Linked DNA regions of Homo sapiens: region 2 is linked to region 1. The links come from fine-mapping of genetic effects on plasma protein levels. Region 1 holds a variant in brackets. A gene starts in the other region. All regions are shown on their forward strands.

Region 1 (5,376 bases):
CTTCCTTCTAGAAGTCTTCTCTGACCTGCTCTACCAGGCGGGCTCCAATCCCTCCATTCATAGAACCATAAATCTCAGTGTTGGAAAGGACCTCAAAGTGCCCATGGCCAACCCCCATCCAAAGAGAAACGCCCCTGAGGCAGTGGGCAGCTTCTCTGTCGACGCCTCCGTGATGGAAGCTTTACTGCTACTTCTGCAGGAGGCAGGCTGTTTCTAGTTGGAGAGCTCTGTTAGAAAATTCTTGGCTGGGTGCGGTGGCTCACGCCTGTAATCCCAGCACTTTGGGAGGCCGAGGTGGGCAGATCACGAGGTCAGGAGTTTGACACCAGCCTGGCCAACATGGTGAAACCCCGTCTCTATTAAAAATCCAAAAATTAGCTGGGCGTGGTGGTGGGTGCCTGTAATGCCAGCTACTCGGGAGGCTGAGCATGAGACTCGCTTGAATGAACCCGGGAGGCAGCGGCTGCGGTAAGCCGAGATTGTGCCACTGCACTCCAGCCTGGGCAACAGGATGAGACTCTGTCTCAAAAAAAAAAAAGGAAATTCTTGAGGAGCTGGTGCGGTGGCTCACGCCTGTAATCCCAGCACATTGGGAGGCCGAGGAAGGCGGACCACTTGAGGCCAGGAGTTCGAGACCAGCCTGGGCAACATGGTGAAATCCTGTCTCTGCAAAAAATTAAAAAAATAGCAAGGCATGATGGCACACGCCTGTAATCCCAGCGACTCAGGAGGCTTAGGCACGAGAATCGCTTGAACCTGGGAGGCGGAGGTTGCAGTGAGCTGAGATCGTGTCACTGCACTTCAGCCTGGCCAAAAGAGAGAGACCCTATATAAAAAAAAACCGTATATATATGTGTATATATGCGTATGTGTATATATTTGTATGCTTCCCTATAATTTCCACTGAGACGGTGGTGATGGAGGTCCTGAGACCACATCATTGCTGGGGTGGTCTTGAGAGCCAAGGCTGCTTAGCTCGGAGTGCAGAAAATGCAAGGGGAACAGCTTTCTTCAAACATGTGCAGGCTGCCGAGTGGCAGAGGAGCAGACCCATTCTGGTGATTCATTTTTTGCATTACACTTATATAATGTTAGTGCCAGATGGGGCCATCAGAGTCATATCCTCATTATAAATGAGGAGACAGGCCTGGAATAACTGTGGCTGGCCCAGGGTCATGTGGCAGAAGAGGTGGGACTGGAACACTGTGTCTCCATTGTCTTCACCTGTTCTCTGCCATCCAATCTCTCACACGTTATCTCCTCGGTGCACGCAATTCTTCAAGCGTGCACAAACACTAGAATTTTATTGGTAATCACTGAAGACCTTTAAAAGTTTTCTCAAAGCAATTCCTTTATTGCTTCCCCACCCACTCCCCCACAGCTGTGTGAGTGACCTGCTTTTCTGGTGAGACTAGCAGCTCTTTATTTTTATTTTGTTGTAGAGATGGGGTCTCTCTAGACTAACAGCTCTTGTAGAGCAAGGATCAAACCACAAACCGCTTTTCCCCCTATCTTTCTGTACAGTTCCTGACTGAAAGAGCTATGTGTTCAATCCAAAATGCTGGCTGCCCTGCAGATGAAGTTCAGTCTAGTCCAGGTCAACCTCAGCCTAGCGCCCACTCTGCCAGGCGCCATGTTGCCCAGGCTCACATACACCGATGCATCAGACCCACTCCCTGCCCCAGGAGCTCACAGCACTGTTAGGACCCCTGTTCATTGCACTCCTGCTTACTTGCTCTCCGGGGCAGCCTAAGCCTGGCCTTTTTCTCTGTCCCCCTCCCTGAGATCCCGGATCTCCCTCCCGTACTTCTCTGGGAACGGGCACAGCAGAACGCCACGATGGTTGCCATAAGGACGAGGAAGGCCACACCAGCTCCTACGGCCACCCCAATGATGACGGCCATCGGCACAGACTCTGTGGGAGAGAAGCGGGCACAGCTGATGACGGATGGGGAATGGCCTACTATCCCCCCATGATCTCACCCCGTTCCTGCGGGGGCAGCCCCTGCCACATGGGGCCCTCCTGGGAAATGCCTCAGTGGGGCCTGGGCAGGCACAGGCCGAGTCCAACTGGGGTCAGCTCTAGCTGGGACTGCAAAGACCAGGGTGGAGGACACAGGGGCTTGGTGGGTGGAGGAGAGGGCAGGGGAACTGAGGTAAAGGGCAGAGGAAGGAGAGCGAGGCAGGCAGACACGGAGAAGGGAGGGCCAGGGGACAGGAAGACCGGAGATGAGGGGTGGGGCTGGCACGATGGAGCTCTCTCTGGCATTAAACAGGAATGCTCTATCACACAGCGGCCAGTGAGTCATAGGCCCTGGCTTTTTTTGAAAAATGACTATGGTCACTGCCCTTGTTTGTTCC[G/A]TATGTTCTCTCCTTCCCTTCCCTTTCTCGGGTGAATATAGAGGACATCCGGCTCTTAGTGTTTGCAGGTCTAAGTAGCTTCCCCGCAGGTCTGCTGGGCATCAGTTGTGGCCCTCAGGTGTCCAAGTCTCAGGGTCCAGGGAGCAGGGTTACAGCTTCTCCACTGCCACCTCTCTAAGGAGAGAGGCCCCTTTCCCTCCATCTCCAGGTCTGCAGCTTCTCCCTCAAGGCTGCCCCTCTGAGCATCCTTGCACCCCTCCTGGCAAGAGAGGCCCACACACTGGGCAGGCAAGCCCTCACCCCTGCTGAGTCTCTGTGGCCTGTCTCCTGCCCAAGCCGAGTGGGGGTAGGGACAGGGAGGGTAAGGATAGAGTCGGGGGTGATCTTCCACACAGCCTTGGCCCTTCTACAGCTGCAAGTGGGGTCGGAGCACATGATTTAGGGCCTTGAGGAATCCATCAGGAATAGAACTAGAGAATGCTGGGGCAGGGAGAGCTTGGGGCTCTCACTGAGGTCCGGAGAAGTCAAGTGATTTGGCCAAGGACACACAGGAGCTGCCCAGCCAGGGTCAATCCAGGTCTCCTCTCACTGCTCCCACCCCTCCACTCACCCCACTCCCACCCCGTCCAGCTCCACCCACAGAGTGACATGTGAGATCCCCCACATCTCATGTGCTCGGTACCGCCCAGACTGCTGCTGCTCCGAGTCCTGGCTCCATCCCTTCTGCTGAGCAACTGACTTTGCCTCTCTTATATCTGTAGGATGGGGATAATGGTACCGGCCCCTCTGAGGGTTGTTATGGGCTTGAGCTGGGTGAATGTGGGCAGAGGCCTTGGAGCAGAGCCTGGCACCCAGCCCTGTTTGGTGTTTGCTGTTGTTGTTACCCAGGAAGGGGTCACCAGCAGTTCACGGTCTTTTATTTTTGGGATGGAGTCTGGCTGTGACACCCAGGCTGGAGGGCAGTGGCACGATCTCAGTTCACTGCAACCTCCGCCTCCTGGGTTCAAGCGATTCTCCTGCCTCAGTCTCCCGAATAGCTGGGATTACAGGCACATGCCACCATGCCTGGCTAATTTTTGTATTTTTAGTAGAGATAGGGTTTCACCATGTTGGCCAGGCTGGTCTCAAACTCCTGACCTCAGGTGATCCGCCCGCCTCAGCCTCCGAAAGTGCTGGGATTACAGGCGTGAGCCATCGTTCCCGATCAGCAGTTCACAGTCTTAAAGGCCAGGAAAGTTCCTTTGAAAGACTGAGCCCCTCCCCAGCCTACCCTGCGTTCGTCAGTGTGGGCGAGTGGGGACAGCTAGGTATCAGTTCTGGGTTGTAAGCCTCTTGCTGTCTTTTTCTTTAAAGGGAGGAGAAAGACCTCAAACCCTGGCCTCTGAAGATGCTGCTGGGAGGAGGTATCAAGGGGTGGGGGTAGGGTGGCAGCCATTTGCCCTCCGGCCAGAGGGAGCTGGCGCCCCTGGCTGGCAGTGTTGCTGGTTAAGCTGGCACATCCCTTTGCCACCCCAGGACTTGCACACGAAGCCATTGGTTACCTACCAATTAGTGGCCAGGACAGCTGTAGGGGTGACAGGGAGGGGACCAAGAGGAGGTGGAATGGTGGACACTTAGGGATTGAAACGGGAGGTGCTCGCATTGGTTCAACAGTCAGACTGAGAAAAGGGGCTGGGCCTCAGCAGAGCTTGCCTTGACCAATAGACGACAACGTCTCTAGGTTTAGTTCCATGAAGAAAGGGAAACTGCTGTGGCAGCTCATTGGTTCTCTGCTTTTGAATTGGATTGATTTGGGTTGGTTTCTCCTCAGATTCCTAGTAAGTTTCCTTGGAAAAACACAGGGCTTGTCTCAGCGGAACTCAGAGCCAAAGCATGTCCATGGAAGGCTCTTAACACCTCTGGGCCTCAGTGCCTTGTCTGCACCCTGGAGAGCTGGGCAGCAGCATTGAAGGTGCCTTCCGATCCTGGGATCCCCAGCCCACGTTTCCACACGCTGCTGACGGCTGGGGGAGGGGTGCCCTCTTAGCTGGACAACGGTCACCAGGGAGGTGGGCAGGGGGAGAGCAGGGGGTCCTGTGGGGGCGAGTGCCCCGGGGTGCCATCTCTTCCCAGTCCCCAGCCTGCCTGTGTGTGTTTCCTCCTTGCCTGGCTTCCTGAGGTTTGGCCTAGGGCGATGTGCAGGCCCCTCCTCTCTGCACAGAGCCTTCCCTGCATGGCTCCTGGAGAGGGACTGGAGGGAGGGGCTGTCCCCACTCAGCCTCCCCTCCATCCAAGGAGGTGTGCCAGGCACCAGGAGCCACCGAGGGGGGAAGGTGTTGGGGAGCTCTGGATGAGTGTCAGCAGACACAGGAGACACGGAGACAGGAGACACCACCCTCAGCACTAGCATGGACCCGGGGAGAAGGCAGCGGGAGGCTGGCAGCTTTCTGGGTTGCCCCAGTGTGGGCTGCAGGGGCCTCTGTGAGCAACCTGTGCCCTGGGTTGGTGCTCTGATAGGGGCATGTCTGCCAGGAGGGGCAGAGGCAGGGGCATGAGGATCCCACGTGGAGCTTGTTGAGGAGGTAACAGAGGCCAGGGGCCAGTGTGGCAGGAGGCCTGGGATGGAGGACCACTCAAGTCTTCAGCATGGCCATAGAGCCTGGCTTGCTGGTCCTGATTCTCTTTTCTGGTTTTCTGCTCGGGGTGGGGTTGAGAGCAACTCCGCCCAGGGGGCCTGATGACTGCTTTGCTGCGTGTGCCTGGGGAGGGAGGCGCTGCCCTGCAGCCTCAGCTTGGGGTGAGATGACACTTCCATGGGGACTGCAGGAGTAGGGAGGGGTGGCAAACAGCAAGCATGGATTGCACAAGCCACAGCAGGGGCTGGGGGCCCCCGGTGTCCTGGGAAGCAGTGGCCAAGCTGGTGATGATGTGGAGAAGCGGGAAGGGTCGGAGAGAGCCTGGAAGCAGAAGGCAGTCAGGACAGGGGCCAGCTGACCCCAGAGGCCAGGAGTCAGGGCTCCTGAAGAGAAAGGATGG
Region 2 (5,376 bases), not on the chromosome of region 1:
ATTTAGGTCAAAGAGAAAAGACAGGTTTTAGCTACAATACAATAAGAGCTTGTACAGATGTGGTTTTTATTAGAAGGCCTTTTGCATATCTGTGTTTCATGGCCCGAGGCTGCCCTTATAAAGCGTTCTGCACTTACCGTTTTGGGAAGCAGTTGTTCAAACACAGGATCTCTCAGGTGGGTATCACTGCTGCCTCTGTCTCAGGTCAGTATAGGAGTTTTGATGTGAAGTCAGCCAAGAACAGCTGAACACTACTTCGGCTGAGGCCCTTTTATAGGAGGGATTGCTTCCTGTGAATAATAGGAGGATATTGTCCACATCCAGTAAAGAGGAAATCCCCAATGGCATCCAAAAACTTTCCCGGGAATATCCACGATGCTTAAAATTACAATGATGTCAGAAACTCTGTCTCTTGAAGCTACTTCACCTTTGTCCATGCCTTTATATCGTATATGCAATTTTATTAATATGACAAAAATGCATGATTTTTAATTATAATAACATAAAGTCTATGTCTTTAAAAAGTTGTAAAACTTTGCTTGTTAGTAGTGTCTCTCATGTAGTTGTGGTAGTAATTAGAATTTCAGAAACAGAAGGAAACCAAGAATAGGTTTGTCATCCATAGTCTACTACCTTCAATTTCTCATTCATAGCTGTGGATAACCAATCACTACTCATTTTTTCTTCCTTTTTCACCTGCCAATTCAACATATTTAACATGCACTGTCTCACAGAGGAATGACTCACAAGGTAGATATTAATCTTCAGATTTTGCACGGCAGTTATGCCTAAATTAAAATATTATCTAAAAATAATATCTAACACTCAAATGGTTAAAATAATGCCTTATTTTAAAAAAAGAAAAATGGGAAATAGATATTTACATCTGGGAAAGTTTCATGGTTTGTTCAGTGAAAAAAATAAAAAGGAGGCCAGGCACAGTGGCTCACGCCTGTAATCCCACCACTTTGGGAGGCCGAGGCAGGCGGATCACCTGAGGCCGGGAGTTCAAGACCAGCCTGACCAACATGGAGAAACGCCATCTCTACTAAAAATACAAAATTAGCTGGGCATGGTGGCGCATGCCTGTAATCCCAGCTACTCGGGAGGCTGAGGCAGGAGAATCGCTTGAACCCGGGAAGTGGAGGTTGCAGTGAGCCAAGATCACGCCAGTGCACTCCAGCCTGGGAAACGAGTGAAACTCTGTCTTAAAAAAAAAAAAAAAAAAAGAAAAGAAAAGAAAAAAAATAAAACGGAAAACTATATATATATATTTAATTGGTCAAAATTTTGTTTAAAATTTTTGAAATGTTAATGTGCAAAGAATAAAAATTCTTCCACAATGTTAACAGTGACTAACTCTGGATGGCAGGATTTGGGATAATTTTTATATCCTTCATTATTATTTTCAGGATTTTAAAGTTTTTTTCAATTTCCCTTTTTTTCACCTTTATAGTAACAAGAATACAGTTTAAAGAAACTTGTCTCTAGGCCAGGCATGATGGCTCATGCCTGTAATCCCAGCACTTTGGGAGGCTGAGGTGGGTGGATCACCTGAGGTCAGGAGTTCCAGACCAGCGTGGCCAATATGGTGAAACCCTGTCTCTACTAAAAATACAAAAATTAGCCGGGGTGTAGTGGCGCATGCCTGTAATCCCAGCTACTGGGGAGCCTGATGCAAGAGAATCGCTTGAACCCAGGAGGCAGAGGTTGCAGTGAGCTGAAATCACACCATTGCACTCCAGCCTGGGCGACAGAGCAAGACTCCATCTCAAAAAAAAAGAAAAAAAGAAAAAGAAAAGAAAAGAAATTTGTTTCCAAATGCAACAGAAGGAGATGTATGTGGTATCCTATATTCCTGCTCTTCATTTTGACATTTCTTCTGGGTGATTGTATACATTCCCCATCTCTGCATCTTACCCTATCTAAATGATGGTAACAGTAAATGGGGATCATTTTAATTTCCATATTCTGTAGGTTTTCAGAGCTCAAGTCAAGCTAATATTCTATATCTACAGCCTTTCAAAATAGGAGGTCTATCTAAAAATGTACTGTCAGCAGACCTGAACGAGTAGTGGTAAAAGCCTCGTTTTTCTCTTTACTTGTTAGCACTGGTCTTTCTGTGTTCATAAAGATGTCAAGACCCAAAAAAAAAACAAGAAAAGAGAAGAAAAATTCCAAAAAAGACAACTGATTAGAAAAAAATAACTTAATTAACGAATTTAATTCAACCCCTATCAAAAAGCATAGAATTTATTCCCTCCACCTTACCACTCTCTTACATGATCCAGATACTGACATTATTCCAATTCTTTATCCCACTTTACTTAGCTCAATGTGGTTGTTGCTTCAATAAATTCAGAAGAGTAATCACTCATATAGTGTTTATTTAGATTTTAGGGCAGAATGTCAAGTTGGGTTAATACATTATCTGTATGTATTTTATTTTTAATAAAGTATGAATACATAATCTGCTATTTTTAAAAAGCATGGTCAAATGTATAGAGTAGCCAAATCTTAAAAAACAATTTATCTTCGATATCAATAAAGTACCTAATAATTATATTGCTAATAGAAATTAGTCGTTAACATCCCTAGATAACTAACTTTATTATTGCGAATTTTTCATAACTAAGTTTATAGTTTATCTCTTCCCCTTTTTAAAATTAGTTCAAAGATATCTAAAAATAGCCCCAGTGGTGATGAAGTTTCTATTTTACTTACATATATATGTCCTGGACCCCCAATTATAATCTCTAACATTTATTGAGTGCTTACTATGTGCCAGGCCATATTCTGAGCATTTTGTATGTTCACCTATTGATTATTCAATCCGTACAACAGCCTATGAAATAGGTACTCCTATTATCCCCATTTTACAGATGAGGAAATTGAGAATCTGGGGATTTTATCTCATTCAAAAGCACAGAGCTAAGGGTTGAAACCAGGCAGTTGATATCCAGAGCCCACTCCCTTACCTGCTACTCCAAACCATGATTTCTTTTGTTGTTATGCCCCGAGATTCCTTGTTCTACCCAAGTTTCCTGTACTCTTCTTGCCCTCTTCTTCCTGAGACATCCTTGACCATCACAGCTCTCCACTGAGATAACTGTGTCCTGGGTTCTGAGACATGGGGGCTGGAAGGGACCCCAGGGACAGTGAGCAGTAGGGAGAGGATGCAGTGAGAACAGACCCTGGATCCCCGGTGCATAGGCAGGGAGAAAGTGGACAAAGGAAAAAACAAGCAAGGCAGGTGGAGCCATGCCTAGGTAAAGTTGATCCCTAAGCCACAGTTCCCAGAAGTTCCTGATTCAAAAGCAAATTTTCTCTAAGGTCAAAGGGCAAACTGATTATTCTAAATTCTAAACTGATTATTTCTAAATTGAGAAAGCTTCAGGGAGAGATCCCAATATTCGAAGGATAAGAGAAATGAGGAGTGGAAGAGATAGGTGAGTAACAGTAACTTAAATGTAGACTATATATAATATATAATATATGTAGAGTATATATATATAATTACAATATATTATATATGTGGAATATATATATTATTTATATATATTTATATATTTTATATATATAGATATTTTTATATTTTATATATAAATATAGATATTTTTATATTTTATATATAAATATAGATATTTTTATATATATTATATATAAATATATGTAAAATACTGTGAAAGAAGAATAGAATCTTGAGACCTCAAATTCACTATGCCAAAGGGAAAGTTAAGCTTGGGAAATGAGTCATGCAAAAACTGCCTTCCTTTTGTTCCCAAATACCTGTAATTTCACATGCTTACTTTATCTTATATAAAATGTAGATGTACTGAGCATGAGATCCATGCATAATTTCCCTCTAGTCCCTTCTTTTTACATGTAAAGTGTAGACTCACTGAGTGTTACAGAGCCTTGCCACAATGTAAACACTTGTCTCATTGCCAACCCATCTTTCGTTTATTTTCTTCCCCTCCTGCTTGCTCTTTCCCCTCTAAAGATGGAAGTTCCCAAAACTCTCTTTGGAAAAAGCGCAGGTCACAGATCCTACAGTGATTTGTGTTTCTTTTACCTGGGACAAAATAAACCTCTAATCTGTTGAGATATGCTTCAGTTACTTTTTGGTTTACAATATGTACATGTATGTATATAATTTATATGTATATAATATATGTACTTGTTTTAACCAGAGGTATGTTATTCAAAATCCATTCATCCTTACAATTACCTGCATTCTCCCACAGTATTTTCTGTGTCCCTGCCCCCGAGGTTGTCACTGCAAATCAGGTACATGGATACTGGGAGCTGATGGGCTCCCCTCTGGCTACCTGGGCTGCTGAAGGGGCCATAGACAGACCCAGCTTTCCTCTCGTGGAGAGGCCCTGGGCCAGCGCTGCGTGGGAGTGGGATTACAACCAGACTATAGCTTCTTCACCTGCTTTTTCCTATCAGGATTTCATAAGAGGCAATTGCTTGTTTTTTGAGGGTGGGGGCAAATCAGGGGGAGTTGAAGAGGAAATTGGGTAAGATTTGAATAGTTGGGCATGTTGAATATTATGAATATCATCTCCCTCTTCAAATAATCCAAAATATACCCCCAAGAAACAGGCTGATTAGAGGTGCTTCAAGGCTCCACTGAATCTCCCAAGCTCTGAAGATGTAGCTAGCTGTTACCGGATTGCCGGTTTTCAAGCCTCGCCTCACATGGACCCTCTTGGCAGTTTCTCGCATGGGGGAAGCATCCGCTACATAGATGGGAATGAAAAGAGGAAAGAAGACGGTGCAAACTCAGGCACACCCCGGTGTCTGCCACCAGTGCTATTTAATCTCTGAGGTGTCACCCTTCCTGGCTTTATTGTCTCTTCCTGGAAGTCTCTTGTCCTCTCCTCCACACCCTTTAATCAGGCATCAAAGACTTTAACCAGTTTTGCTGTGTGCCCAGGCCCACTCATTCTCACTTTTATGGCAAAGGGAGTGGGAGACAGAGAGATAGCCAGAAAGAAGAGATTGGGGACCCCAAGACAAATGTTAGAATTTTAACCAAGGCCACCCTGTGGACAGGAGATTATTGGGTTTAGTGGAAAGCAGCACTGGCCACAACCACACGTGGCAAAAGCATCTATCGAGGAGTGAAGTTATATTTGGTGAATGTGACCGGGAAGCAGGGGCAGTGGTGTCCTCCTGCCTTCCTGAGGCACTCTGTTCCCTTACCTCTGCGAAGGCTTATTTTACCCCTGAGTGCTTAGTTTTGAAAGCCTTAGTTCCCTCTCTCCCATAAAAAAGCTCTACTCTGCTAACATCTAAGTTACCTTTGCAGAGTCTTAGGTAGAGGGAGGAAATCCCAATAAAGATTCCACCCTATCTGCAAAATAC

Alleles and levels. Positions count from the first base shown, and alleles are read on the strand shown. Strength reflects both the effect of a copy and how common the allele is.
With allele G in place of A in region 1, the plasma level of the protein whose gene starts at base 246 in region 2 is higher (weak association).

What was found. PIP is the posterior inclusion probability: the model's chance that the variant is causal. Protein levels are from antibody-based Olink assays in UK Biobank. Linkage for the fine-mapping came from a reference panel and not from the study's own genotypes, which makes the PIPs less certain.
Region 2: it holds the start of SELE, and the variant in region 1 is fine-mapped to the plasma level of the SELE protein (UK Biobank, PIP above 0.99).

Annotation. Positions count from the first base shown.
Region 1 is chr11:126,429,612-126,434,987 of GRCh38, forward strand. It overlaps KIRREL3 (kirre like nephrin family adhesion molecule 3), which reads right to left. Exons shown (of 17, transcript NM_032531.4): 14 at 1,808-1,915. Among named protein-coding and RNA genes, the nearest start is that of ST3GAL4, 77 kb to the left of the region's middle. RefSeq lists a silencer at 4,876-5,041. The variant G/A (reference allele first, on the strand shown) is at 2,362.
Region 2 is chr1:169,733,834-169,739,209 of GRCh38, forward strand. SELE (selectin E) reads right to left here and starts at 246. Exons shown (of 14, transcript NM_000450.2): 1 at 138-246.